7 linked regions of the Homo sapiens genome follow. The protein of the gene in region 5 purifies or fractionates together with the protein of the main gene of each other region. This does not show direct contact. Each region holds a gene or a part of one and is shown on either strand. Other genes may lie near its edges. The genes, in order: CNN1, PPP1R2, TTC5, RNF20, CIAPIN1, RAB5B and HSPB8.

Region 1 (4,439 bases), on a different chromosome or scaffold from region 5:
AAAAATACACAAAATTTAGCTGGGCATGGTAGCAGGCACCTGTAATCCCAACTACTTAGGAGGCTGAGGCAGGAGAATTGCTTGAACCCAGGAGACAGAGGTTGCAGTGAGCCGAGATCCCGCCACTGCCTTCCAGCCTGAGTGACAGAGCAAGACTCCATCTCGGAAAAAAAAAAAAAAATTCTGGCTGCTGGATGAAGAAGGGTGGGTCTGTAGGGGATGAAGTGGAAGTTGGGAGCTCATTACAAGAGGCCAGGAAACAGACTCTGGTGGCTGAGACCCAGGTGGAGGTGGCGGGGAGCAGTGGGTGGTTTTCTGGACTCATTAAAAGGCAGAGCCAAAGAACTTTGGAGGGACTGGACATGAGGCTGAGAGAAGGAGAAAGGGGGAGTTGGGGGCAAGTCCAAGGGCTCTGGCTGAGCACCTAGAAGGGGGCACTGCTAGGCAGGGAAGGTGGAGGGAGGGGGGAGTCTGGAGGGGGAAGCTGCATGTCAGGAGTCTGGAGCAGGGTGAGTTTGATTTGAGACACCCAGGCACCCATGGAGAGAGCTGAATGAGATGGTAAGAAACCCAAGCTGCAGGGAGATGAGGGAGTTGCTGGCATATGGAGGCACTTAAAGTCAAGACACTGAATGAGGCCAGGTGCTGTCACTCATGCCTGTAATCCCAGCGCTTTGGGAGGCTGAGGCAGGAGGATCGCTTGAGCCCAGGAGTTCAAGACCAGCTTGGGCAATACAAATACAGTGAAACCCCCTCTCTACCAAAAAAAAAAAAAAAAAAAAAGCCAGGCATGGTGGTGCGCACCTGTGATCCCAGCTACTCGGAAGGCTGAGGTGGGAGGATCGCTGGAGCCTGGGAAGTTGAGGCTGCAGTGAGCTGTGATTGCACCACTGCTCTCCAGCCTGGGCGACAAAGCCACACCCTGCATCAAAAAGAAAAAAAAAAGAAAAGAAAAGAAAAAAGAGGCGAGATCATTAAAGGAGTGAGTCAGAGAAGAGGCCCTTGTGGGCTTCCTGCTGTCTACAAGAGAAAAGGATGCTGAGACACGCCTGCCAGTGAGGCTTCGGAGATCCCAGAGACTCGGACACACCTTGGATAAGCAGGCTTTCTGACTGGGACCTGAGTCTAGCTCCTTGGCATCAGTGTCCCATTTGTGTGTGTGCTTGGGTGGTTTGGAGGGGCTGCAGCTGAGAGCTGACTGCAGGGAGAAGTGACGCTAGGGTATGGCATGGCCCCTTGTGGTCATCCCGTCACCCTCCTCCTGCTGGGCTGGGCTGGAGAGCGGGAGTGGGGGACACCTTTCTTTCTTTTTTTTTTTTTTTTGAGACGGAGTCTCGCTCTGTCCCCAAGCTGGAATGCAGTGCTGCAATCTCAGCTCACTGCAACCTCCGCCTCCTGGGTTCAAGTGATTGCCTCAGCCTCCTGAGTAGCTGGGAGTACAGGCATGTGCCACCACGCCTGGCTAATTTTTGTATTTTTAGTAGAGATGGGGTTTCACCATGTTGGCCAGGATAGTCTCGCTCTCCTGACCTCGTGATCCACCCGCCTTGGCCTCCCAAAGTGCTGGGATTACAGGCGTGAGCCACCGTGCCCAACCCTGGGGGGACACCTTTCTTACCCCTTCCCCACTCTTCTCAGATTCATCAATAAGCTGCAGCCAGGCTCCGTGAAGAAGATCAATGAGTCAACCCAAAATTGGCACCAGGTGAGCCCAGACACAATCTCTTCCATCCTTGCCCGCAAGCCCCTCAGACCTCCCCTCCCCACCCAGTGACCACCACCTGCCCCCCTCTAGCTGGAGAACATCGGCAACTTCATCAAGGCCATCACCAAGTATGGGGTGAAGCCCCACGACATTTTTGAGGCCAACGACCTGTTTGAGAACACCAACCATACACAGGTGCAGTCCACCCTCCTGGCTTTGGCCAGCATGGTGAGTGTGGTTGCAGGCTGGGCAGGGGGTGGTGGGCAGCCTGGGCTGGGATGCAGGTGTGGCCACTTGTGCTCCTGAGCCCAGTGAAGGTGGCGGAGCGGGGGGCAGGGATCGGGGAGCAGGTGCTGTCAACAGCGTCCAAGGGGGCCGGGCGCGGTCGCTCACACCTGTAATCCCAGCACTTTGGGAGGCCAAGGTGAGCGGATTGCTTGAGGCCGGGAGTTTGAGACCAGTCTGGCCAACATGGTGAAATCCCGTCTCTACTAAAAATACAAAAATTAGCTGGACGTGGTGACGCATGCCTGTAATCCCAGCTACTCAGGAGGCTGAGGCAGGAGAATCGCTTGAACCCGGGAGGCGGAGTCTGCAGTGAGCCGAGATCGTGCCACTGCCCAGCCTGGGTGACAGAGCCAAGACTCCGTCTCAAAAAAAAAAAAACAAAAAACAAAAAACAGTGTTGGCCGGGCACGGTGGCTCACGCCTGTAATCCCAGCACTTTGGGAGGCCGAGACAGGTGGATCACAAGGTCAGGAGATTGAGACCATCCTGGCTAACATGGTGAAACCCTGTCTCTACTAAAACTACAAAACAAAATTAGCCGGGCATGGTGGCAGGCGCTTGTAGTCCCAGCTACTAGGGAGACTGATGCAGGAGAATGGTGTGAAGCCGGGAGGCGGAGCTTGCAGTGAGCTGAGATCACGCCACTGCACTCCAGCCTGGGCAACAGAGCGAGACTCTGTGTCAACAACAACAAAAAAACAGTGTCCAAGGGGACTGTGCAGCCTGGAGGCCCCCTTGTCAGTCCCTGCTTTCCCTGCCCCACCTAGGCGAAGACGAAAGGAAACAAGGTGAACGTGGGAGTGAAGTACGCAGAGAAGCAGGAGCGGAAATTCGAGCCGGGGAAGCTAAGAGAAGGGCGGAACATCATTGGGCTGCAGGTACCGCCCTGTCCTCACTGCGCAGAGGTCATAGAGGCCAGGAGGGCACCCTGATGTCTGAAGGCTTTTGGGGACAGGATATTTGGCATTAACTATACTATAGGCCGGGTACTGTGCTTATGCTCATCTTCCATTCACAAACTCACTCACTCTGCCAACACCCCAGCAGACAGGTGCTTGTTATCAACATACCCTTTCCGCAGATGAGAAAACTGAGACCCGGAGAAGCTGGCTCGCTTTTGCACAGATCTTCCAGCTGATGCGTGGCAGGCTGGAACTTCAATGCTAGAAGTCAGTCATGTGATAGGCCCACTCTGGGCCTCAGTTTCCAGTCTCGAAAGGATGCCTCAGGCGGGGTGCAGTGGCTCACACCTGTAATTCCAGCACTTGGGGAGGCTGAGGCAGGAGGATTGCTTGAGGTCAGGTGTTTCAGACCAGCCTGGGCAAAATAGAACCCCCCTCCACCGCCATCTCTACAACAAATTTAAGAGTTTAGCCAAATGCAGTGGTGTCTGCCTGTGGTCCCAGCTACTTAGGAGGCTGAAGTGGGAGAATCACTTGAGCCCAGGAGTTCAAGGTTACAATGATTGCATCACTGGACTCCAGCCTGGGCGACAGAGTGAGACCCTGTCTCTAAAAATGAAAATGGGCTGGGTATGGTGGCTCATGCCAGTAATCCTAGCACTTCGGGAGGCCGAGGCAGGCGGATCACTTAAAGTCAAGAGTTCAAGGCCAGCCTGGCCAACGTGGTGAAACCCTGTCACTACCAAAAATACAAAAACTAGCCGGTGTGGTGGGGCACACCTGTAGTCCCAGCTACTCAGGAGGCTGAGGCAGGAGAATTGCTTGAACTCAGGAGGCAGAGGTTGCAGTGGGCCAAGATTGTGCCGCTGCACTCCAACCTGGGCGACAGAGTGAGATGCTATCTCAAATAAAATAAAATAAAACAAAAAAATAGAATAGAACAAAATAAAATATAAAAATAAACTAAAAAATGGGCCAGGCACAGTGGCTCACCCCTGTAATCCCAGCACTTTGGGAGGGTGAGGTGGGTGGATCACCTGAGGTCAGGAGTTCGAGACCAGCGTGGCCAACATGGTGAAACCCCATTTCTACTAAAAATACAAAAAATTATCCGGGCATGGTGATGCCCACCTGTGATCCCAGCTACTCCGGAGGCTGAGGCAGGAGAATTGCTTGAATGTGCAAGATGGAGATTTCAGTGAGCTGAGATCATGTCACTGCACTCCAGCCTGGGCAACAGAGCAAGACTCCGTCTCAAAAAAAAATAAATAAAATAAAATAAAAATTGAAAAAAATGATAAAGCGGCGCCTCATCCTCTCCCATCAGCTATGCCTCATGGCCCATGATGAGGTCTGTAATTATTGGTGTGATTCTCCTTCTGGCTTCCTAGATGGGCACCAACAAGTTTGCCAGCCAGCAGGGCATGACGGCCTATGGCACCCGGCGCCACCTCTACGACCCCAAGCTGGGCACAGACCAGCCTCTGGACCAGGCGACCATCAGCCTGCAGATGGGCACCAACAAAGGAGCCAGCCAGGTGAGT
Region 2 (3,638 bases), on a different chromosome or scaffold from region 5:
TGGCAGTTTCTTAACAGGTAAGAATTGTTTTAAAGGATTTTTTCTTAATTATAAAAATAGAAAATAATAAAATATTAAAACTACTTCATTGTTCCTTGACTCAGAATTAAACACTGTTAATTGCTGAGTCTTATTTTTCTCTCTGTGTGTGTATGTGACAGGCATTGTACATAGTAAATATAGTATATGGTGTTGTAACTCGCTCTTTTGTCACCATTTAACTCTTTCTGGATAATTTTCCCATAGCTTTAATCTTTCTTCACAAATATAATTTCTAATGGCTGGATATATTCTTGTTCTTCCATTGAGATGAATGCCAGATAGTAAATATTTTAAATTTTGCAGGGCCCAGTGGTCTCTATTACGAACTACTCAACTCTGCCATTGAACACAAAAGCAGCCTTAAGCATGACAAAAACAAATGAGCATCACTGTTTCAATAAAATTTTATTTATAAAACAGGCATGGGCCAATCCTTGAGCTCAAACTTCCTAAGTTTACATTTTGCATCTTATAGAAAAAAAGCGACAATTTGAAATGAAAAGGAAGCTTCACTACAATGAAGGACTCAATATCAAACTAGCCAGACAATTAATTTCAAAAGACCTACATGATGATGATGAAGATGAAGAAATGTTAGAGACTGCAGATGGAGAAAGCATGAATACGGAAGAATCAAATCAAGGTTAGATGTTTGGAAAATGTCACTGAGACTTTTGTAATGGTCTATGCCTAAGATAATGTACTTTATTTTGCTTTAAACTTGTGAAAAAACAGAAAATTTTGCTGAGATTCGCTTTATTATACCAAATGTTTCTAAAGTTTTAACCCGCATGGCCAATTTCAGAATAATAAAGTTTTTATACCTAGAGTTGATTTGATTTTAGACCATATGTTTTATTATATGGCTTTCTTATGGTTTACTTGCCTTTAGGCAAGGATGTTTGTCTTCATATTAAGCTATATTTTGTTTTGAATATTTTAGGTCATGTTGTATTTGTCATAACGATCTAAAATTTAAAATTTTTAAATGAAACTTTTTTTTTTTTTTTGAGACAGAGTCTCGCTCTGTCACCCAGGCTGGAGTGCAGTGGCGTGATCTCGGCTCACTGCAAGCTCCGCCTCCTGGGTTCCCGCCATTCTCCTGCCTCAGCCTCCCGAGTAGCTGGGATTACAGGCGCCTGCCACCACGCCTGGCTGATTTTTTGTATTTTTAGTAGAGATGGGGTTTCACCATGTTAGCCAGGATGGTCCCAATCTCCTGACCTTGTGATCCGCCCGCCTCGGCCTCCCAAAGTGCTGGGATTACAGGCATGAGCCACCGCGCCCAGCCTGAAACATGTTTTTAGTATGGAAGATTTGGTTTTACATCCCGTTAGATACAAAGTATGTCATATCTTTCCAATACGGATTCTTTTGACTGTTGGATTGACAAGTTATTTAACTGTTTTTGTTTTTATTTTTTTTTTAAGTCTTAGACACCCAGCCCCTGCAGCCTAGCAACTCCTGATCTGTCATAGGAAATAGGTTTTATTTATTTTTTATGAACTGTTACTCTGGTATTTAATGAAGTGAATCTTCTGCATCACTAATGGAGATTTTTTGTGCCCACCACCTACTCCTTGTACTTACAAACTTCATACTTTTCAGTGGAGGCGTAACTGATGTTATTTGTGGTGCCCAGAATGGTTAAGTCTTAGGAAATTAAATAATTATTGTATTACCATTTTGGTAAGCATAGTATTAAATATGAATAATTCTATGATACAGCCTGATGAGTTGCTGTCTCATAGTGTCAGGATTACAGTACTTTTTGTTATTCCGTAATATGCTTCAACCTTTTAGTCTATTTCATATAGCCTTTCATTTCCATTATATATCCCATAGTCTGTTTAACTTATATTTAACTTGAGCAAACTTCATCTTACATAGTAGCTGTGGCATGTTTTTATTATCCATTTTTATTTTTATTTTATTTTTTGTTATAGAGGCAGCGTTTTTTGTTTGTTTGTTTTAACGCCATTTCTTTTGAAAAATAACTATGGCATTTTGTCCGTCTCTGCTTATAAGATATTACATTTCACATATTTAGTACATAAATATATTTTTTGTTTAAGTTTAATGGAGGATTAAAATTTTGTATTAGGTCAGTGCCTGATTTTTCTTCACTGGAGATGAAGTACACCTTGCAAAGGAGTATATCCTGCTTAGCATTATAAAACCCACAAGAATAGGATAAGACTTAGGGAAATAAGTACCTTATTTACCCCCTACCCTTTTTGGGCCCTTAACATTTTACCAGCTTTTCAGATCTCTAAGTTCTATAGAACCCATTAGTTTTGGGACAGTGCCAGTCTCCTCCCTTCCCCCTTTCCTCCCCCATTCACACAATTCATTGGAGAAAATGACATGTTTGGACTCTTAGGTGATATTTTATAGCTTTCAGGTAATAAATATGTATCTTTTTATAGCTCTGGATATTGGAGTTGTCGTAAACTCTTACCTTTCCACCTGTGACTTACAGAAATGTTCAATCTGAAACCTGTTTGTTTTATCAGCAAGTAGACACTTCTGTTCTTTAGACTATTTAGGGGAGTGTATAGATTCTTCAATTTCAGTCTAAATCAGCCTACATGAAATATACCTTATTTGTTTTTAAAATTTTTATATTTGCTTGTCATGCATGCTAATAGAAGGGAACTTTAGCCAGGGTTGACAACATATAACAAATTATGTTGACTTTTTCTTTTATCTTTGCAGGATCTACTCCAAGTGACCAACAGCAAAACAAATTACGAAGTTCATAGACGAGATTTGTTCAACACTGCAATTGTTTGTTAGATGTAAACCCTGTGACTATAGTACGTTGCTTCTTGTTCTTCACAATTCATGACTTAAGTACCAAAATGCATACCAGTTATTATATATTGCCAAGAATTAAATGATAAACTTAGAGACTGATTAGACTGAAAATGCCTAATCGATATATATATTCTTGTGCCTAGTACTTTACCACAAATACAGTGTAATATCATCAGTCCAAAACTGCATTACTTTTGTAAAAACACTGGTTAATTTGTATAAGATATTATAGAGCTTTTTATGCTTTAGAAGTTAAACAATATCTTTGGGGGGGAACTAATTTATTTTCATCACTTGAAATGTGGTAGCTCTTACAAAGTTTATTGATTTGATTTTTTTAAAAATCAAAAGCCAATTGAACAACAGGATATATAGACTGATAAATATTTAGGCTGAATAGTATTTTAACACTTGTCTTCAACTTGATTTGTCTGTTTAATTGAAAAGAATTATAAGAGTTACTGTTGCATTTTCTGACCTACTATTTTTAAAATTCCTGTTGAGTTTCTTTGTGTTTACAAGGAAAGGACTGAACTTTTTCTCATCAAAACTAGCTTTTTTCCCCACAAATAAATTATCAGGTTAAACTTTCACCAATGTCTGCTCTGTTTTTTGTTTTTGGGGGGTTTTTGTTTGTTTTTGTTTTTTAATGTTTTTGGTACACTGGGCAGACTTCAGAGCAGTTTTTTAAAAAAATAAATATTCTAATGTAGCTATCTCGCCATTCCCTTTAAATACCTGTCTTAACCTCCTGCTTTTCTTTCCTACTCCTTTCC
Region 3 (4,439 bases), on a different chromosome or scaffold from region 5:
ATCTTTTAGAAGACTTCTGAAATGTTAAGTAAATATAAAGGTCAAGTGAGCCAATATATACAACTTAACTATTTTAGAGTTTGGAAATTAGCTTCTTTGAAATGATTCCATCTTTGGGGTTGTGATCATCTTGGCTAGGAAGAAGGATGTAAGGTGTTACCAGCTCTTCAGGCTGTTTGTTGCAGCACAGGAAAATAACCAGGAAGGAAAACAGTTTATTTCTCTAGATTCCTAGCCCATGGTGCCATTCCCTCGGGATAGTTTGTCTGGATATACTTATAATTGGGATACACTTCTTGTACAGTTGCATAAATATGAAGAGAGTTATGGGGAGGCCCTGGAGGGCTTCTCTCGGGCTGCAGCCCTGGACCCTGCCTGGCCAGAGCCCCGGCAACGAGAGCAACAACTTCTGGAATTCCTGGATAGATTAACCAGCCTCCTTGAGAGTAAGGTAAAAATGTCTGAAGGGCTGAATTCCACTTTTTTTTTTTTTATTTTGTCGTGGGTCAATAAAATAAGAATAAATAGGTTTACGAGGTAGAGACCCTATAGAAGTGGGTGGGAGGGAAGGATTAGAATCTCAAGGAAGGCGACTAGTTTCCAGCTTCTTACCTATTTCCCCTTCTTTGCAGGGAAAGGTGAAGACCAAAAAGCTGCAGAGCATGCTGGGAAGCTTGCGCCCAGCCCATCTAGGCCCTTGCAGTGATGGGCACTATCAGTCAGCCTCTGGGCAGAAAGTGACCCTGGAGCTCAAGCCACTGAGTACGCTTCAGCCTGGGGTGAACAGCGGTGCCGTCATCCTGGGAAAGGTGGTATTTAGCCTCACCACAGAGGAGAAAGTCCCCTTGTGAGTTTCTCTTGGATTTCCCCCATTTTACCCTTTTGAACTAATTGCTCTCACTTCCTGTTCTTTCCCTGGCAGTTGAGGAGATTGTCAGTGGTCACAGATTTGTGACTTCTGATTTCCTTCTGTGACTATCCCGTGGGCAGATATTGTCTGGGTGATGTTTAACCATCTTTTGATCAGAGGCTTTTGTAGATTCTGTCACTGCCCATTTTGTATCCCTGAGTTTGGTGCTATGTGGATTCCTATATCCATAGTTGAAATTTGGCAGGACATATTTTTTTATAAGACAGAAACCTCAAAATTCTTCTGTCCCTTTGCATTTTCATGATCATAGAAGTTGAAGGAGGACAAATTTCTTAGTCCTGTTTGTACTTAGGTATACTTAGTTCTGAAAAGTGAGCTTTGAGTTATAATTTAAAGTCTGGTTGGGAGATTGTCTTAGATGTCATTCAACAAATATTTATTGAGTGTGTAATATATGTGTCATAGGGAGTGAGAAAAAAGAAATGTAAAGGACCCAGGTGCAGGTGCTTCTAGCAGCAGAGGAAATGAATTAAGAATATTTGTTTAGAAAATTTTTGGATCTTGAAAAGTTACGGTTTAGTGAATGCCACCACTCCTTGGTCCTTCACTCACTTCCTAATCCCTGGTTGACCGGTTTCCCCTTTCTCTTTTCTACTGAAATTGTTATTTTCCTAGGATCACCATTGTCTTTCTAGGCACTGGATCCAGCAACTTCTATTGCATGGTTCCAAAACATTCTGACTTATCTCTCACTATTGCTTTTCACATCCTTTCTGTTCATCTAAACAGAAATATTCACAATTCCCATTATATGCCCAAGCTTTCTCCATGGCATTTTCTAGGGGTTTGTATATTTGACGAGTTGAAGGGCAAAAAGATAGTTGAGAACAGTTTAGTTTACTAGAGCAAATCCTAGAGCTGAGAAGAATTAGAAAGGGATATAGACAAAGGTAGGTTTTGGAGGACCTTGAGAACAAATAGATATTTTGCCACTCCTTGGTTTCTCTTTTTCTGCCTAACTTTTAAATCTTAGGTTCCCAGGACTCTATTTTTGTTTTTTTCCTTTTTTCTCTTTATATCAGGATGGCCTATAGTTGCCAACTTTGATCACTTGTCAGTGGTTGCCTGACATACTGTGTAGAAGGATTCTGAGGCTTTGACTGGATTCATCAGGAGAGTGCTTTGCTTGATTGCAATATTTCCTGTGAATTCAGGCATGTCACGTGATGGCATGAGTGTGATTCTTCTCCATCCTGTCTATAGATCATCTTGCCCTGTGATGTCATATAAACCCAAGGCTTTGGCAGCCTCCTATATGCTTACAGATATATCTCCAGCCCAAGCTTCATTTCCAAGTGTTGGATTCCTATAACCATCTGCTTCTGGGTTCCAATAAGAAATCTCTAACTCAGTATTTCAGTATTACTCACCTAAATCTTTCTCTGTAAACCTGCTTCTCCTCCCTGGATTCCTTGTGAATGAATGGTATCACCTCTCAGTCACTTGATTAAGACTTTTGGAAGAATAGGCTTCTCCATTCTCCAAAAAGATTTGCCTTTTTTGTCCTATAGACTTGACTTCTCTGTGTTTACCACCTTAATTCACCCCCTTATCACTTCTCCAGATAGGTCTCCCTGATTCTCTGGTTTCCTCCAGTGTTCCACAGTGCTGCCAGAGAAATGTTTCTTAGATGGAAATCTGACCATTGCTACTTCTTATTTAAGATCCCTTACTGGTACTATATGTAGCTTTTGGGATAAAGTGTGAACTACTTAGGTTAGCATACAAAGTCCTTCATGATTTGCTCCCTGCTTCTCTTTCTATTATCTTTTGTCTCTTTCCCACCAGTGCCTTTTGTTTCAACCATGGAACAATTTTGTTGGTTTTAGAACAGCTGTTTTCATGCCTCTGTGTCTTACATACAGTTACTCTGCCTGGATAATCTCTAGCTTCTTCTTGACATAGCTAACATCCTCTTCTGCCCCCAACATTTTGTATAAAAATTTTCAAACATATAGCTAAGTTGAAAGAGTTTTACATTGAACATTTGTGTTCTCATCCACTTATATTCTACCATTAATATTTTATTTTACTTAGCTTATTACATATCAGTCTGTTTATCCTGCTATCAGAGTAAATTGCAGAGATCAATATACTTTACATACTTTAGCATGCAGTCATTAACTGAGTTCAGTATTTGTTTCAATTTTTTCTTTTTATGTAAAATTTACATACAATGAAATGTACAATTTTAAGCGTACATTTCATAGCTTTTAACAAATGGAAAATATCTGTATAACCCAAATAGAGATCATTACCACCATTCTGGGAAGTTCCCTGATGTTGCCTCCAAGTCAAAATCTCTGTTCCTATCCCCTCAGAGGTTTTTAACATTTTTACCGAGGATTAATTTTTCTCTTTTAACCCAGCTGGTTTTTTACCCTTTAAGATTCACTTTGAGCGTCACCTCTTCCAGGAAATCTTCCCTGCTTTCCAATTTTGATTTAGATATTTGTCCTCTGGGCTCCCACAGCCCAATCTGTGGCTTCATTGAATTCAGCACAAGGGAAAAGCTATTCTAGCACCCATCACACTGTGCTGTAAGTGATGACTTCATTGTCTGACTCCTGCTAGACTATAGGTCATTCATAGCTGGATTGGTATCTTATTGCTAAACACAATGCTTGGCACATATGTAATATTCAGTGAAAGTTTGTGGAGTTAAACTACACAGACAGTGATGGTTAGAGGCTTTGGTTAAGAGTATGATAGTTAAATTGATAGACCAGGAATAATGTTACAACTGTAACATGTTGGTCTAGTTCATCATTAATATTTGTTGAATGGCTTCAGTGTGCTTTGTCCTAAGTTCTTAGCAAAGTGACTGATGAGTTTCAGAAAAATGAAGACTCAGATATATAAAGTGGAAGATGGTACCTCTCATAGGTTTTCTGAGTAACTGAGAAAAAGCATTTGTTTATTTTGTTAGTATTTTATTTTTAAAGTTTAATTAAGTTAAATTTTATATTTTATTTTAATTACCTGTCACTGACTTTAAGTCCAGTATTTTGCTAGTATTTTTAAACCACTGTTTCTGCTCTTCTTTCCTACCCACATACCTTTTTGTTTTCCTCTCTCCTAATCTGTCTTTACTTGGTAGTACATTTGGCCTGGTAGATTCAGATGGACCTTGCTATGCAGTGATGGTGTACAATATAGTGCAGAGCTGGGGAGTGCTCATTGGAGACTCTGTAGCCATTCCTGAGCCCAACCTGCGGCTTCACCGAATTCAGCACAAAGGAAAGGTGAGCAATGGCTAGGATTCTCTTACAACTCGTAGGCTCTAAAAGTAGAACCAAGCTTATCTTTTTATAAAAGATATAGAAATAATTATATGTAAGTATGTGTGTAGGCTATGTGTATATATATTTGTGTGTATATGTTTTATTTATATATATATATGTATTTTTTTACTAAAAAGGTAAACTGGTAAGCAGAAAAATAAAAAAATGCAGTGAAATATTATCACTCAGGTATTACTGCCTTTTAACTGTTACTGTTAACAGTT
Region 4 (4,439 bases), on a different chromosome or scaffold from region 5:
CTTAGGAGAGGCATAACTATTTTTGATACCCTGTCAATTTTTTTCTCTGTCACTGTTATTAAAGAGAACAAGTTAGTGACTGGGGTCCTCAACTATGTTTTTAAAATAAGCATCCTGACAAATTTCACTCTTCTGGTGGCTCATTTGACACAGAATATAAAACACATATCAAAACAATTCTAGGAGGAAAGAATACAGTATATCCAGGTACCATCTCCTAGTTAGTCTAATTTAATTTTGGGGTAGATTTTACATAACTACAGCAATGGGTAGATAACTTAATAATCTTTATAAAATTGTCTCTCTTGTGTAGGACATCAGTGAGTTCAAAATTTTACTTCCTGTCTAGCGTCTGGGGCAATGCTAGATTCTGCTTCTGACTTTGCTTTGGGCCCTCCTAAGGTGGAATTGCGGAGTGCAGTGGAGCAAGTCGTTAAGGAAACTCCAGAATATCGCTGCATGCAGTCACAGTTCTCCGTCTTGTATAATGAGAGCCTACAGTTGAAAGCACACTTGGATGAGGCTCGGACCCTGCTTCATGGCACCAGAGGAACCCACCAGCACCAGGTTGAGCTTATTGAGGTAATAGCCTTGCCTTGTCTTTTGTATGTAAGCTTTCTTGCCTCCTAAATTTTACAATTTTACTCCCTCATGTGCAATTAATCTCTCATTCATTCAGCTGTCATTCATAGAGTGGCAGTAGGTCTTTACTCTGGTAGGTACTGGGCATATAAAGATGAGATGACAAAATTCCTGCCCTCACAGATCTTGTAGTCTGCAGTAATGGGAGAATAGTATCCATTAGAATGCAATGTGGTACAATGGCAGCATAGCCAAAAGATGTGATACATGAGAAAAGAGTGTCTGATTTGACTGTGGAAGTTTCCTGATTCCACTTAAAAAAGTAAGGTATAAATATTAAGGATAAATTATTGGTAGTTGAAAGTAGGAGAAGAAGAATTCCCGGCATGAGAACAGCACATATAAAGGTATGAGAGAGCATGAGAAATAGTTTAATATGGCTAGAGCTTACGTGTATGTGAGAAAATAGTGGGTAGAAGCTGCAAAATTACTTACATTTCTTAAACAAAAAGCATATAATGGCACCAGTAGATGATTTTTTTAAAAGATAGAAACTTTTATTCATATGTTCATTTCTGTATCTTCCATAGTTTTTAAGGTAATGGTTATAATAGTTGGTCTTTTAATATATGCCTGACAAATGAATTGAATACTATTTTACATATGTTTATATACTGTTTTATAGTTTAGTTCTCCAACTAAATTCTAATATTCTCAGAATTGGTGGCCATTTTCTTTATTTTTCAGTATCCTGTCAGTTTCCAAATTAGTCTTTTGTAGATATCTGGTTTCATTACGTATAGATTGAACTGGAAATTTTCAGAGTAATCCATAGAATATGATGATATTTCTACATTTTAATAAGAATTTTTTTATTGGTTCCTTTATCTGTGTGTAGCGAGATGAGGTTAGTCTTCATAAGAAGCTGAGGACTGAAGTAATTCAGCTAGAAGATACATTGGCCCAGGTCCGCAAGGAGTATGAAATGCTGAGGATAGAATTTGAGCAGACCCTTGCTGCCAATGAACAAGCAGGTATAATGATTCTCACTCCATGCTGTAGTTTGCTCTTAATACCTTCCTTGAAAGATACAACACAGACCCCAGGGTTTGTTAATGCTGACTTCAACTCAGAAGTCATAAGTACCTTAAATCCTATAATTCATTTTGGTTCACAGCCTGGATGTTTGTTTTTTAACTCAAGTTGACCAGTTTTGTTTTCATCTTCTGAGAAGGAATCTTTTATTTGGTAATTCTCCCTATTTCTCAGTGCCTCCTGATGTGTTCTGTTCTTTCTCTCCTTGTGCCTTTGCCCTTACCACGGTTCCTCATAACATTGTTGTTCCTGTATTTAAGGCCCTATAAACAGGGAGATGCGCCACCTCATCAGTAGCCTCCAGAATCACAATCACCAGCTGAAAGGGGAGGTCCTGAGATATAAGCGGAAATTGAGAGAAGCCCAGTCTGACCTGAACAAGGTAACCAGAGGGAATAGAATAAATATCATTTGCTATTAATGTCGTAAAGCTGCTTTTGAATGAGGTCGGCAATGTGGTTATCATAAGAGATGTGCATCTTTCTTTTCTTTATTCTCCCAGACACGCCTGCGTAGTGGTAGTGCCCTCCTGCAGTCCCAGTCTAGTACTGAGGACCCGAAGGATGAGCCTGCGGAGCTAAAACCAGATTCTGAGGACTTATCCTCCCAGTCCTCAGCTTCAAAGGCATCTCAGGAGGATGCCAATGAAATCAAGTCTAAACGGGATGAAGAAGAACGAGAACGAGAAAGGAGGGAGAAGGAGAGGGAACGAGAAAGAGAACGGGAGAAGGAGAAGGAGAGAGAACGAGAGAAGCAGAAGCTAAAAGAGTCAGAAAAAGAGAGAGATTCTGCTAAGGATAAAGAGAAAGGCAAACATGATGATGGACGGAAAAAGGAAGCAGAAATTATCAAACAATTGAAGATTGAACTCAAGTAAGAACCACATTTAGAGTAACAGTTTCGACTGAAAAGCTAAGATTAAGACATCATGCATGAAATGTTTGGTTGATGGCATGGCTTGTCTGATCGTTTTAATGTTTTAGATTGTACAATTAATTTGGTTTCAAGTCGTGTTCAAGTGCACAGCCAAAATGGCTTGCATGGCTATTTAGTACTTTGGTTCAGTGATCGAGTATCAGCAAACCGATGATGGTAGCCTTATTTTTATGAATCCAAATTAAGGAAAAGGATGTCATGATTGAGGTAATACTTCTGAGAATTATTGGGAATTAACTACTGCTCTTCACTGGATTTGAGCAGATTGCTGGCGTTAATTGTAATTTAAATGATATTAAGTGGAGTATTTATATATCACTGTAACTTGAACAATATCTGATCTATTTGCCTGAGAGTTAACTGGTTTGTGAATATGCCATATCTTTCTTAGGAGATTTACTCCTATACACATTGACACACTAAGATAGACCTTTAACTTGTTGAATTTTTCTGTGTCATAACCTTATGCATTGGCCCTTCTCCTGTATAACCAATAACTTCTCTGGCAGAACGGCTTACTTCTTGCTCCTTACTTTCTATGGTTGATCCTTTGTTGATGTTTGGACTTGAGAGACCACTGTGCTCAAAATGCTTGAACTCTTTTGGTATATAAAAGTATAGTTAAGAGGTTTAGTAATTTAATAAGAGGTGAAGTTTTAGTCTTTGGCTGATGGTTAATCACTCAGCTGTCAAATCTAGGATTAACAGTATATCTCAGACTTTCAAATTTTTCCCTTTTATTTCTCCCTCTTGAACTCTTTAAGGCAATTTTTTTTTTTTCTGGTGTGGTATCAGAATCATCTGAGTGACTTGTTTAAATCACTTGTTTAAATTTTTGAACTCCATCCCCAGACCTACTGAATCTCAGTTACCCAGGGTTGGGGGCCACAGAAATTTGCCTATATAACAAGTACACAAATGTCTGTTTTATAACTTTGTTAGAGGACTTTGAAGGGAGAAATGATTCATTTTTATACAGCTTACTTTTCTGTACTTTCTAAGCATATCCAAAAGTCTTTTGATAGTCTGTGCAAAATTTTATCTTTTAGGTGTGATATGAAATGTAAAATGAAACTGTTTTAAAATATTCTGCTCAATCAAAATTCCCTTGCTCTGATGACCTTTATTTTCTTATTACATTGTTCCCCTCCCTCTACTACGCCTGTCATAGGAAGGCACAGGAGAGCCAAAAGGAGATGAAACTATTGCTGGATATGTACCGTTCTGCCCCAAAGGAACAGAGAGACAAAGTTCAGCTGATGGCAGCTGAGAAGAAGTCTAAGGCAGAGGTATTCTAGTCTGCTATTACCTGTCCTTCTGGTTAAAATCTTCATTTGTGGGATTTTCCTTTATACTTGCCAACGATATAATTTCTTTCTTTATCTTTAAAATAAGTGTTTAAGTGCAACATTTTCTGCCTTTTCAAAGACCATCTGAAGTAGAGATTTTAAAACTCTCCATAGGATGGTAAAATATATCTGAATTACTGGGGTTATGAGTAGGCTTTCCAAAGTATGTATTCCTTGTTTTTCCTATGTAATTCATTGCTACAGGGATAATCTTTTTCATTACTTTTGGGAGGAATGTCTTATGCTCTTAAAATTTTGAGGCCTAAAAAAAAGGATGGGAACCACTATTCTAAAGAAAGTTACCTGTGCACTTCTCAAAAGTGTTGCTTATAGAAGCATGTCATAGTAGAATGGAGTGATGTTAAAACAGATGGTGTTATGTAATGTTTTAGTATATTATGTACCTTGTTCTATAATTCTGTAAAGACTCTTTTGGTATTATGAACCTTCTATCTTTGCACAGTATTAATTGATTTT
Region 5 (3,638 bases):
CCTGCACTCACAGTTCCTTGCCAATGGCCCTCTCCCTACTTGGCAACTGATATGGTTAGGCTTCGTGTCCCCACCCAAATCTCATCTTGAATTGTAATCCCCATAATCCCCACGTGTCAAGCGAGAGGGGTGGAGGTAACTGAATCATGAGGGCGGTTTCCCCCATGCTGTTCTGATGATAGTGAGTTCTCACAAGATCTGATGGTTTTATAAGGGGCTCTTCCTCCTTTGCTCAGCATGTCTCCTCCCTGCCACCTTGTGAAGGAGGTGTCTTGCTTCCCCTTCGCCTTCCGCCATGATTGTAAGTTGCCTGAGGCCTCCCCAGCCATGCAGAACTGTGAGTCAATTAAACCTCTTCCCTTTAAAAATTACCCAGTCTCGGGCAGTTCTTTATAGTAGTATGAAAACAGACTAATACAGCACTTACTTCTTCATGGCTAGCAAGAGAAATTCTTCTCTAGTTCTTTTAAAGGATCAACTGATTGGGTCAAGCCTACTCAGGATAATCTCCCTTTTAATTAACTTCAAGTCCATTAGGGACTTTAATTACATCTGCAAAATCCCTTCACTTTTGCCACAGAAGGTAACCTAATCACAGTAGGGATTATCCCATCACATTCACAGGTCCTGCTGAAACTCAAGGGGGTTATTACACAAGGGCATGAGTCACTAGGGGTCATCTTAGACCTGTGTATAAAAGGGGCTTTGGAGCCAAACTTCAATTAGCCAAACAAACAACTAAAATCCACCAGCAGGGACTAGGATAAGCAAAGCAAACTTGGAGAATCAAATCAAGTTTCAAGGACAGATATCAATGAAAACTTTTATTTACTGGTAAAATATAAAAATCCAGGTCTCTTAAATCCACACAATCTCTCCAAATATTTGGCAAGATTGATTCCAAGTCCATATGGGTGGATAACAAGAACAAAGGGGTCTCTGCTCAGAGAGACGTATTGTCGTTCAGAGTTCTGCCCTGCTTCCCTCTAAATGCTCACCAACCTGGACTCTTCTAAAGTGGGCAGACAAGCCCTATTCTAAGCGTAGGAATAGCCCCATTTGTGCGTGACACTAAGTTCCTCCAATGGTCCAAACTGAGCGTGGATGACTATCCAACATCACACACAAATGCACATCCCCTCTCTTTACAAGACATGCAGAATCTCAAGATATGTCAAGATATGCAGCAAGTTTAATACCTGAAGGTTAACATAAATGACAACAGGACACAGATGCAATGCTACAGTCAAATGTGGTTGGGGATGGAAGGGGGCAGAGGGACACTGGATATCATCACAGCAACCAGTGAGTGAGTCCTCTGGTGCCCTGAGGAGGTTGTGAGCCACTTGACTCGTGTCACAAAGAATGGAGTAAACTAACAACTCTGAAAGACAAGAGGGTGGCAGCATTGCTGAGATGAGACTCAAGGCAGGGGTCTGCAGCTCTGTCACAGAGTGTTAATGCTCAACGATGCCTGGGCTCAAGAGCGTTCTGGTCAGCATTTTAACATCAGAAGAAGGGCTTCTTCAGGACACACTCCCTTCTCTTAACATGAGGTGAAGAAACCCATCCCATTCTGAAACCAGGTCCCATAATACCTTGGTCTTTTGATACACAGCAGCACTACACACCACTGTGCCCCCCAGCCAGCTTCACTCTGTCTGCTAAGCACCCACTCTGCAAACAGATCTCAGAGTGAACAAATCCAGAGGAGGTGGGAGGAGCCACCATGGTGGGATGTGAGGGACAGGAGTTGGCTGGAGGAGCAGATGGGTCCCATGTCAGGAACCTCCTAGGCATCATGAAGATTGCTATCACTCAGAAGCACCTTTTCCCCAGGTTTGAAGGCTGGCATCCCAAGGTAGGGGCAGCTGGCACAGCGGAAGGCATCGCCCAGGTAGCACTGGAGAGAGAGAATGGGGAAGCCAAGGGTCAGCTTATCCCAGGCATACCAGCCAGAAGAAAGAAATGCCTAATTTCATAATGTGGCCACAGTGGCCTGAAGGAAATGGCTATGTTTGCAGGTCCAATTGAGACCAAAATACTAAGAGTTTTCAAGATTTCTGGTTTCGTGAAAAACTATAGTCATGAAAAGTTCCCTAGGAGGCCATAGTTCTTTTTTTTTTGTTTTTGAGATGGAGTCTCCCTCTGTCACCCAGGCTGGAGTGCAGTGGCGCGATCTCAGCTCACTGCAAGCTTCGCCTCCTGGGTTCCCGCCATTCTCCTGCCTCAGCCTCCCAAGTAGCTGGGACTACAGGCGCCCGCTACCATGCCCGGCAAATTTTTTTGTATTTTTAGTAGAGACGGGGTTTCACCATGTTAGCCAGGATGGTCTCGATCTCCTGACCTCGTGATCCGCCCTCCTTGGCCTCCCAAAGTGCTGGGATTACAGGCGTGAGCCACCGCACCCGGCCTTTTTTTTTTTTTGAGATGGAGTCTCCCTCTGTCACCCAGGCTGGAGTGCAGTGGTGCGATCTCAGCTCACTCCACCTCCCAGGTTCAAGTGATTCTCCCGCCTCAGCCTCTGGCATAGCTGGAATTACACACGTGAGCCACTGCGCCCGGCCATAGTTCTATATTCTATGCAGTTCAAAACACAACCAACTTTAGCTAACTGTCTAACCATCAGGTCCCACTCTGAAGTACAAAGAAATGGGCCAAAAATAAAAAGCAACAAGACCCTCCCTGACCAGCACAAGCACGCTAACCCACTCTCACTCTCAGGAGACAGCCTCTCTCCCCATTACTACCTACGTTCGTGTGCTCACGCATTCGTCTGTTACTAAAATATTTGAGGTGGAGCTTGTCTGTGTTTAGTTTAGAAGAAGGTCTAATCCCCCTGGGGGTTTGTGAATGCTGAGGAATGATCCTGATATTTACGTTTCCACAAGCTGACTTGGGTTGGGAGCTCATCTGTTCCCTTGACTTCTCTTTTTCCAGTTCTTCGGCAAGGCCACAGGTGCTGCGGGAAAATCAGTAACTAATGAACGAGAATTGTCACCACCCAGAAATCCCAAATCCTAACAGTGCCAAAATGTGCTTTAAGCCTTTTCTCTTCACACCAGTGTCATAACTCAGAAGCCTATAGGCCAGGCAGACAGCAGCAATATGAGAGGCTGCTGAGGGAGACAGAAGTGGGAGGAGGATGAGGGAAGTACCGTGTGTGCTCTGTCTACAGAGGGCAGCCACTACTCAAGCTTCAGCTGGTTATCATGCTGGGGAAAGTGGACCCAGATTGCCATATTTTCCAAATTCAAGAACAGAAGGGAAAAAAATCTGTGTTTTCACTTGAAATTTCCTGATTTGTAAATGCTGGCAGCTTTTACATTTAAAAAACACTGATGATTAACGCTGATGATGAACATCACTGATTAACTTTCTACAATCCTTCCCATCCATTTATAAAAACAAATGTGAAGACACCAAGGTCTCGCTCTGATGCCCATGCTGGAGTGCAGTGGCACAATAGTGGCTTACTGGTAGGGTTTTGAGGGAGAGTGAAATTAGATACATGGCACAATTACGGCTCACTGCAGCCTCGACCTCCCAGGCTCAAGTGATCCTCCTGCCTTTGCCTCCCAAGTAGCTGGGACCACAGGTACATACCACCATGCCTGGCTAATTTTTTTTTTTTTTTA
Region 6 (4,439 bases), on a different chromosome or scaffold from region 5:
TCTAGTCTACTTTGGGACCTTGAGTTCTCACCTCTCATTCTTTTGCTAACTTCCTCTTTACCCTTTAGTTATGTCTCCTTTTTTTTTTTTTTTTTTTTCCAGAGATAGCGTCTTGTTCTGTCGCCCAGGCTGGAGTGCAGTGGTGTAATCAGCTCACTACAACCTTCAACTCCTGGGCTCCAGTGATTCTCCCACCACAGCCTCTGGAGTAGCTGGGATTACAGGCACATACCACCATGCCCAGCTAATTTTTTTAAATGTTTTCTAGAGACTCAGTCTCGCTATGTTGCCTAGGCTGGTCTCAAACTCCTCACCTCAAGCAAGGCTTCCCCTTTTATCTCCCAAACCCCTGGGATTACAGGCATGGGCCGCTCTGCCAGGCCTGTTTTTTCTCTTTTTCTTTCTCTGTACCACTTTCATATTGTGGCTTCTTCCCTGCCCCCGATCTCCCCCCTACCCACCCCAGGTGGAGTCTTGCTCTGTTACCCAGGCTGGAGTGTGGTGGCACGATCTCGGCTCACTGCAACCTCCGCCTCCCGGGTTTAAGCAGTTCTGCCTCAGCCTCCCGAGTAGGATTACAAATGCCGGCCACCAACCACACCCGGCTAATTTTTTTTTTTTTTTTTTAGACTGAGTCTCGCTGTTGCTCTGTCGCCAGGCTGGAGTACAGTGGTGCAATCTCAGCTCACTGCAACCTCCACCTCACAAGTTCAAGCAGTTCACCTGCCTCAACCTCCCAAGTAGCTGGGACTACAGGCACGCGCCACCACGCCCAGCTAATTTTTGTATTTTTAGTAGAGACGGGGTTTCACCATGTTTGCCAGGCTTGTCTCAAACTCCTGACCTCCTGATCTGCCTGCCTTTGCCTCCCAAAGTGCTGGGATTACAGGCGTGAGCCACTGTGCCCGCCTTTTATTTTTTGAGACGGAGTCTCGCTCTGTCACCCAGGCTGGAGCACAGTGGCGCATCAGCTCAGTGCACCCTCTACCTTCTGGGTTTAAGCGATTCTCCTGCCTCAGCCTCTGGAGTAGCTGGGATTACAGGTATGCACCACCACACCCAGCTAATTTTTTTTGTATTTTTAGTGGAGACGGGGTTTCACCATGTTGGCCAGGCAGGGCTCGAACTTCTGACCTCAGGTGATCCACCTCAGCCTCCCAAAGTGCTGGGATTATAGGTATGAGCTACTGCACCCAGGCTGTGGCTGCTTTTTAGGAATATATTGATAACAACTAATATTGAGATATATTTTAATAGCTATTAGCACTATGCTAAACACATCTTTCACTTATTATTTGTAGCTATGAGGATGGTATTTTTTCCATTTTACAAAGGTAGAAGGTAAGGCTTAGAGAGGTAGAGAAATTCTCTTTATATCATATTAGTAATGATTAGTAGCTTAATATTTATTTAGCACTTAGTATCTATCAAATACTTAAAATACTTTAGTTATTTATATGCATTATCTCATTTAATCCTTACAACACCCTTATGAAGTAGGTGCTTATAAGGCTATTATCTCATTTTACAGATGAGGAAATGAATGCACACATATATTTAGTGACTTGCTCAAGGTTCATAGCTAGTAAGTAGAGCTGAAAAACAAACGTGGAGAATTGGACTCCAGAGCCTTTATTCCTCTGAATTGCCTCCTGTATGATTTTCTGTCTTTACGATCTAGTAAGTGGGGTTACTGAAAATTTTTAACCCCAGTTTAACTCCAGTCCCACTAATTGTGGTGACAAAATAATGATGTTTCCCCACATATGCCATAGAGTATGATGTCTGTGAAGTCACTAGGATCTGCTTTGGAAAAGCGAAAGAGTAATTTGAACAAGCAAAGTACAACTCTCAAGCAATGCTTAGGTTTGGGAGAGAGGTTTTTGCATGCTCTGCCTATGCTAACTTCCCTTTGAATTTCATAGTTCCTTTCCGCTCAGAGTCAGGATGATGAAATGTATTCAGATTTAGACGATTAGAATCTCAAAGTCCCAACTCTTCTCTCTGTTCCCTGCCCCACCAGCAGCTTTCTTAGCCCTCTTAGAAGATAGAGGAGCTGATTCAGTGTATTCTTTCATCAAATACTGATTGCTTGCAGACTTAACGCCCTATACCATCCTCTGGAGACTTCTGCATGTCTTTAGAAGGTATACCTTTCTCTGCCTCTAATTTGGAGGGCTACAGCTGTTAGGCCCCTTTGGTGTGGAGGGTAATCTAATCCCTAGGCACCAGCAAGACAGCTGCAAGTTGAGAGTAGGTCAAGCTTACTGATTCTTGATAGACTTTCAGATTTGGAAAGATGGCAGAAACAAAGTGAAAAAAGAGTTGTTAATGAAACAAAGAGTTGATAATGAATGTGATCTGTTGGTTGTATTTCTCTCTTTACCTTCAACCAAAAATGAGAAAGGATAGATTTTGTGGCAATGGGACCCTGGTTAGATCTTTAGAAATGTCTTATCAGGGAGACCGGTCATATATAAAGGATACAGCAGCAACTACCCTTCTGCCCTTAGGAGTGGTGACTCTTATCCCACACCCCTAGAGTGAATCTCTCATTTTGACAAAGAGCTAAGGAAAAATGAAAAGAAGGCCAGGCACGGTGGCTCATGCCTGTAATATCAGCACTTTGGAAGGCCAAGGCGGGCAGATCACCTGAGGTCAGGACTTCTTAGACTAGTCTGACCAACATGGAGAAACTCCGTCTCTACTAAAAATACAAAATTAGCCAGGCGTGGTGGTGCATGCCTGTAATCCCAGCTACTCGGGAGACTGAGGTGGGAGAATTGCTTGAACCCGGGAGGCAGAGGTTGTGGTGAGCCAAGATTGTGCCATTGCACTCCAGCCTGGGCAACAAGAGTGACGTCTCAAAAAAAAAGAAGAAAAGGAAAAGAAGAGCACAGCACCAGGATGCCAAGGAGATACTGGGGATCTAGGGTACCGGTGGGTGGATCTGGATATTCTTCAGGCCAGCTAAAGGTTGATCACTTTGTGTGACTCAAACAAAAAACTTTGAAGACCTGGTGGGGAATTACTGGGGAATTAAAAACTCTCAGTTTTCAGTCTCTCTATTTCGGCTCCCTTGGCAGTTAGAGATTATGTGGTAGGGCAGACTCCAGAAGCAGTTCTTATTTTGCTCTTCCCAACTCTTACCACTGAGGATCAGCTGCCTGGGACCTTCTCAGAGCTAAGTCCTCATAGAAGCAAGGAGATGAAGAGGTTCTATCCTTCTCTGAAAAGCGATTGCAGCTTCAATGGACGTATGTTTAATTTTATTCACTTTTTTTTCTTGCAGGAGTGTTGAAGCCTGGAAATCCCCTCCCCTTCCCCCTCCCCCCTTTACAGTATCCCCCTCCCTCCACCCTTTCCCATTCTGATAATCTGGCCATGACTAGCAGAAGCACAGCTAGGCCCAATGGGCAACCCCAGGCCAGCAAAATTTGCCAGTTCAAATTGGTCCTGCTGGGAGAATCTGCAGTGGGAAAGTCAAGCCTGGTATTACGTTTTGTCAAAGGGCAGTTCCATGAGTACCAGGAGAGCACCATTGGAGGTGAGTGCCTTGGGGTAATAGGAGATTGAATGTTTGGTAAGGGTTTTTTTTTTTTTAGATGGAGTCTTGCTCTGTTACCCAGGCTGGAGTGCAGTGGCGCAATCTTGGCTTACTGCAACCTCTGTCTCCCAGGTTCGAGCGATTCTCATGCCTCAGCCTCCCGAGTAACTGGGATTACAGGTGCACACCGTGGCACCTGTCTAATTTTTGTATTTTTAGTGGAGAGGGGGTTTCACCATCATGTTGGCCAGGTTGGTCTCAAACTCCTGACCTCAGGTGATCTGCCTGCCTCGGCCTCCCAAAGTGCTGGGATTACAGGCGTGAGTCACCACGCCGGGCCGGTAAGGCTTTTGAAAAGAGATATAAGACCTGATTATGGAGCTGGCCCTCTTAGTCCCATTCTTTTCCCCAGAAATGGAAACCCTTTATAAAAACAGAGGCCGGTCCCAGTGGCCCACCACTTTGGGAGGCCAAGATGGGCGGATCACCTGAGGTCAGGAGTTCGAGACCAGCCTGCCCAACATGGCGAAATCCTGTCTCTACTAAAAATACAAAAAATTAGCCAGGCGTGGTGGCAGGCGCCTGTAATCCCAGCTACTCGGGAGGCTAAGGCAGGAGAATCACTTGAACCCAGGGGGCAGAGGTTGTAGTGAGCCGAGATTGCGCCACTGCACTCCACCCTGGGCGACAAGAGCAAAACTCCATCTCCAAAAAAAAAAAAAAATCAAAATCTGGTAAAATAGGCTGGGCATGGTGGGTCACACCTGTAATCCCAGCATTTGGGAGGCCAAGGCAGGCGGATCACTTGAGGCCAGGAGTTCAAGACCAGCCTGGCCAACAAGGTGAAATCCCCGTCTCTACTAAAAATACAAAAAATTAGCTGGGCGTGGTG
Region 7 (4,097 bases), on a different chromosome or scaffold from region 5:
ATACGGCTCATGTGGCTACAGGTTGTTGTACCCACAAAAAAAGAAAGAAAGAAAGAAAAAAAAAAAACTCCCCAGCCCCTCCAGAAGGAGTCCTGCCTATGATCAGGAATGGGCTTACCTCATGCCTTGGTTCTTTCATCAAGACCCTCGTATTTACAATAGGCAGAGCCAGCAGGGATCAGTGGAAAGATTTTGATTGAACTGCCGGTCCTTCCTGCCATAGTCCTTCTTTCAAATGTCTGGTGCTGGGGGAGGCAGGAGAGCATCATGGTCAGATACTCTGAGTTTGGAGACCAGGATTCCAATTCCATTTCCTATCTGCCATTTGCCAGCTGAGCAACCTTGGGCAAAGCAGTTCACTTCTCTGAGTCTCAATTTCCTCATCTGTAAGATGGGGATAGCAATGGAATCTGCCTGGTGGGATTATTGTTAACACCAAAATGATATGATTCAGCTAAAGTACCTGGCACATAGAAAGTACTCAGAAGGTCATGGATTTCATGGTTAAAAAAAATAATGGCACCCCAATGAGATCACTAATATGTCCTCACAGTTTTAATAGTTTGTTGAAGAAACCAAATTCTCAATAGTCTCATTCACCCAAAGCAATCCAAAAATCATAAAAATACCTTATTAGAAGTTGGACCAGATTTAGGTTTAGAAATTCCATCTTCGATGCTTTCTCACTTGTTGAGCTTGTCATTTGATTTCCCCCAAGTCTCTGTTTAGTGATCTGTAGAATGGGCATATTAATTCTTACCTCTTAATCATCCTCTTACAATACTCCAACCAAGTATTGTCTATAACTGAGTTTTAAGAACAAGATAATTGGCTGGGCTCGGTGGCTCACGCCTGTTATCTCAGCACTTTGGGAGGCTGAGGTGGGTGGATCACAAGGTCAGGAGTTCGAGACCAGCCTGGCCAACATGGTGAAACCCCATCTCTACTAAAAATACAAAAATTAGCCAGGCATGGTGGTGGGTGTCTGTAATCCACACTACTCAGGAGGCTGAGGCAGGAGAATTGCTTGAACCTTGGGAGGCGGAACTTGCAGTGAACCAAGATCGCGCCACTGAACTCCAGCCTAGGTGACAGAGTGAGACTCTGTCCCAAAAAAATAAAAGGAAGAACAAGATAATAATGATCTGCTAAGTGATTGTATTAGTCTGTTTTCACACTGCTGATAAAGACATACCTGAGACTACATAATTGATATATATATGAAAAAAAGAGTTTTAATGGACTCACAGTTCCACATGGCTGGGGAGGCCTCACAATCATGGCAAAAGGTGAAAGGCACGTCTTACATGGCAGCAGACAAGAGAGAAAATGAGAACCAAGCAAAAAATCTTATAAAACCGTCAGATCTCGTGAGACTTATTCCCTACCATGAGAACAGTATGGAGGAAACTGCCCCCTACCCATGATTCAATTATCTCCCATCAGGCCTCTCCCACAACGTATGGGAATTATGGGAGCTACAATTCAATATGAGATTTAGGTGGACACAGCCAAACCACATCAGAGATACTTAGGGTATGAACAAAATCAAGGCTTATTTTGAATACCATCGAGTATGTTGCCATCTGAAATCTACATGTGGCCAGCTTGGCCCCTTTTATCCACCAAGGTACCTAGTGCTTGCATCACCATTAATGCATTTTGTAGTGAAGCACTCTCCAGCAAGCACATGTCAGATGAAAATGTGTTGCCTGTTATGATAACACCTTACTTGCGCTCTATAAAGGGATGGTAGTGGTGCCATTTCTGCTAGTAATTGTGGTCAGTAGTGGGTATTAAGGTGATGACTTCAACCTGGGACCAAATATGTGGGCCACAGCTCTCTTTTAAGTTAAGAACTACTGTTCAAACAGCATTTTACCATTTGCAAAGCATACTCAGACTCTGAAGTTCAAATACTCTACAAGTTCAGTATTATTATCCTCATTTTGCAGATGAGAAAACAAGCTCAGAGCAACTGAATAATCTTCCCAAGACCACACAGCTAGAAAGGGGTAGAGCCAGGATTCAAACCCAACATTGTATGTCCCCAAAGCCTAAGCTCTTATCAAAAATATTTCCTCTCAAGTGAATAAAAGAATGTTTAAGCAATATTAACAACAATAAATGAATAAAATCGTGTGTTTCTCCTAGGCTTCCTGCAGAGGTGGATCCTGTGACAGTATTTGCCTCACTTTCCCCAGAGGGTCTGCTGATCATCGAAGCTCCCCAGGTCCCTCCTTACTCAACATTTGGAGAGAGCAGTTTCAACAACGAGCTTCCCCAGGACAGCCAGGAAGTCACCTGTACCTGAGATGCCAGTACTGGCCCATCCTTGTTTTGTCCCCAACCCTAGGGCTTCTCTGATTCCAGGATACATTACTTTAGCTGAACTCAGATTTAGTGCAAGTAAAATGTTAGAGGGTGCGGGGGTGAGGACTGACCACAGATTCCCTGGATAGTGTAGTGGTAGATTTCTCCACAGGATAGCGCAATTGGCAAATCATGCTTGGTTGTGTTAGGCCAAAATACTAGTTTTGCTTTCTTTACCTTTTCTATCTTGATGAAAATGTTGCACATTCTATAGTTGCAAAACACATAAAAGGGGACTTAACATTTCACGTTGTATCTTACTTGCAGTGAATGCAAGGGTTACTTTTCTCTGGGGACCTCCCCCATCACCCAGGTTCCTACTCTGGGCTCCCGATTCCCATGGCTCCCAAACCATGCCGCATGGTTTGGTTAATGAAACCCAGTAGCTAACCCCACTGTGCTTCCACATGCCTGGCCTAAAATGGGTGATATACAGGTCTTATATCCCCATATGGAATTTATCCATCAACCACATAAAAACAAACAGTGCCTTCTGCCCTCTGCCCAGATGTGTCCAGCACGTTCTCAAAGTTTCCACATTAGCACTCCCTAAGGACGCTGGGAGCCTGTCAGTTTATGATCTGACCTAGGTCCCCCCTTTCTTCTGTCCCCTGTGTTTAAGTCGGGATTTTTACAGAGGGAGCTGTCTCCAGACAGCTCCATCAGGAACCAAGCAAAGGCCAGATAGCCTGACAGATAGGCTAGTGGTATTGTGTATATGGGCGGGACGTGTGTGTCATTATTATTTGAGTTATGCTGTTGTTTAGGGGTAAATAACAGTAAATAATTAATAATAATAATAATAATAATAAAGGAGCTGACGTTCTTAGCCTTGTGTGGTTCTTTTAATGAGGAACTAAATGTAATACCACCTAGATATACAACATCAGTTAGCAATGCTGTGGCTTAAAGTAATGTTGCGCGGAGCCGCGATGCCTAAAGGAGGGAGAAAGGGAGGCCACAAAGGCTGGGCGAGGCAGTATAGGAGCCCTGAGGAGATCGACGTACAGCTGCAGGCTGAGAAGCAGAAGGCCAGGGAAGAAGAGGAGCAAAAAGAAGGTGGAGATGGGGCTGCAGGTGACCCCAAAAAGGAGAAGAAATCTCTAGACTCAGATGAGAGTGAGGATGAAGAAGATGACTACCAGCAAAACCGCAAAGGCGTTGAAGGGCTCTTCAACATCGAGAACCCCAACCAGGTGGCACAGACAACCAAAAAGGTCACACAACTGTATCTGGATGGGCCAAAGGAGCTTTCGAGGAGAGAACGAGAAGAGATTGAGAAGCAGAAGGCAAAAGAGCGTTACATGAAAATGCACTTGGCCGGGAAGACAGAGCAAGCCAAGGCTGACCTGGCCCGCTGGCCATCATCCGGAAACAGCGGGAGGAGGCTGCCCGGAAGAAGGAAGAGGAAAGGAAAGCAAAAGATGATGCCACATTGTCAGGAAAACGAATGCAGTCGCTCTCCCTGTATAAGTAACCGCGACCCATGGGAGGAGATGCCGGGGACCTGGGCCGCGCTGCCAGGACCTCTGCTGTGTCTCGCCCACCCTGTGCCCTGGCGCCGCCGCAACAGCCCCTCGTGGCCAGGAGCCCCCCATGGCCTGGGGCCTCCTCTTCATTTTGGCACAGAAATTGTTTGGGGGATGTGGGGGGAGCTGGGGGAGGGGCAGTTGCTATCTTTGAGACAGAAAGATGAGGGACAGCATTTCACATGTAACCATTTG

What was found.
Region 1: the proteins of CIAPIN1 (region 5) and CNN1 purify together in Homo sapiens (affinity purification with mass spectrometry; one large-scale study listed by BioGRID and IntAct). This does not show direct contact.
Region 2: the proteins of CIAPIN1 (region 5) and PPP1R2 fractionate together in Homo sapiens (co-fractionation; one large-scale study listed by BioGRID). This does not show direct contact.
Region 3: the proteins of CIAPIN1 (region 5) and TTC5 fractionate together in Homo sapiens (co-fractionation; one large-scale study listed by BioGRID). This does not show direct contact.
Region 4: the proteins of CIAPIN1 (region 5) and RNF20 fractionate together in Homo sapiens (co-fractionation; one large-scale study listed by BioGRID). This does not show direct contact.
Region 6: the proteins of CIAPIN1 (region 5) and RAB5B fractionate together in Homo sapiens (co-fractionation; one large-scale study listed by BioGRID). This does not show direct contact.
Region 7: the proteins of CIAPIN1 (region 5) and HSPB8 fractionate together in Homo sapiens (co-fractionation; one large-scale study listed by BioGRID). This does not show direct contact.

What each region holds. Positions count from the first base shown.
Region 1 is NC_000019.10:11,545,037-11,549,475, forward strand, and holds part of CNN1 (calponin-1), read left to right. Parts: intron 1-1,638; coding exon 1,639-1,705; intron 1,706-1,795; coding exon 1,796-1,933; intron 1,934-2,760; coding exon 2,761-2,871; intron 2,872-4,286; coding exon 4,287-4,433; intron 4,434-4,439. UniProt on the Homo sapiens protein: Thin filament-associated protein that is implicated in the regulation and modulation of smooth muscle contraction. It is capable of binding to actin, calmodulin and tropomyosin. The interaction of calponin with actin inhibits the actomyosin Mg-ATPase activity.
Region 2 is NC_000003.12:195,516,065-195,519,702, reverse strand, and holds part of PPP1R2 (protein phosphatase inhibitor 2), read left to right. Parts: intron 1-517; coding exon 518-685; intron 686-2,760; coding exon 2,761-2,807; 3' UTR 2,808-3,638. UniProt on the Homo sapiens protein: Inhibitor of protein-phosphatase 1.
Region 3 is NC_000014.9:20,291,720-20,296,158, reverse strand, and holds part of TTC5 (tetratricopeptide repeat protein 5), read left to right. Parts: intron 1-304; coding exon 305-451; intron 452-632; coding exon 633-847; intron 848-4,031; coding exon 4,032-4,176; intron 4,177-4,439. UniProt on the Homo sapiens protein: Cofactor involved in the regulation of various cellular mechanisms such as actin regulation, autophagy, chromatin regulation and DNA repair.
Region 4 is NC_000009.12:101,550,204-101,554,642, forward strand, and holds part of RNF20 (E3 ubiquitin-protein ligase BRE1A), read left to right. Parts: intron 1-402; coding exon 403-582; intron 583-1,480; coding exon 1,481-1,616; intron 1,617-1,937; coding exon 1,938-2,059; intron 2,060-2,179; coding exon 2,180-2,550; intron 2,551-3,784; coding exon 3,785-3,902; intron 3,903-4,439. UniProt on the Homo sapiens protein: Component of the RNF20/40 E3 ubiquitin-protein ligase complex that mediates monoubiquitination of 'Lys-120' of histone H2B (H2BK120ub1).
Region 5 is NC_000016.10:57,427,378-57,431,015, forward strand, and holds the end of CIAPIN1 (anamorsin), read right to left. Parts: intron 2,963-3,638; coding exon 2,881-2,962; intron 1,904-2,880; coding exon 1,793-1,903; 3' UTR 810-1,792; downstream 1-809. UniProt on the Homo sapiens protein: Component of the cytosolic iron-sulfur (Fe-S) protein assembly (CIA) machinery required for the maturation of extramitochondrial Fe-S proteins.
Region 6 is NC_000012.12:55,983,577-55,988,015, forward strand, and holds part of RAB5B (ras-related protein Rab-5B), read left to right. Parts: intron 1-3,292; coding exon of another isoform or gene 3,293-3,384; coding exon 3,385-3,547; intron 3,548-4,439. UniProt on the Homo sapiens protein: The small GTPases Rab are key regulators of intracellular membrane trafficking, from the formation of transport vesicles to their fusion with membranes.
Region 7 is NC_000012.12:119,191,545-119,195,641, forward strand, and holds the end of HSPB8 (heat shock protein beta-8), read left to right. Parts: intron 1-2,154; coding exon 2,155-2,314; 3' UTR 2,315-3,202; downstream 3,203-4,097. UniProt on the Homo sapiens protein: Involved in the chaperone-assisted selective autophagy (CASA), a crucial process for protein quality control, particularly in mechanical strained cells and tissues such as muscle. Displays temperature-dependent chaperone activity.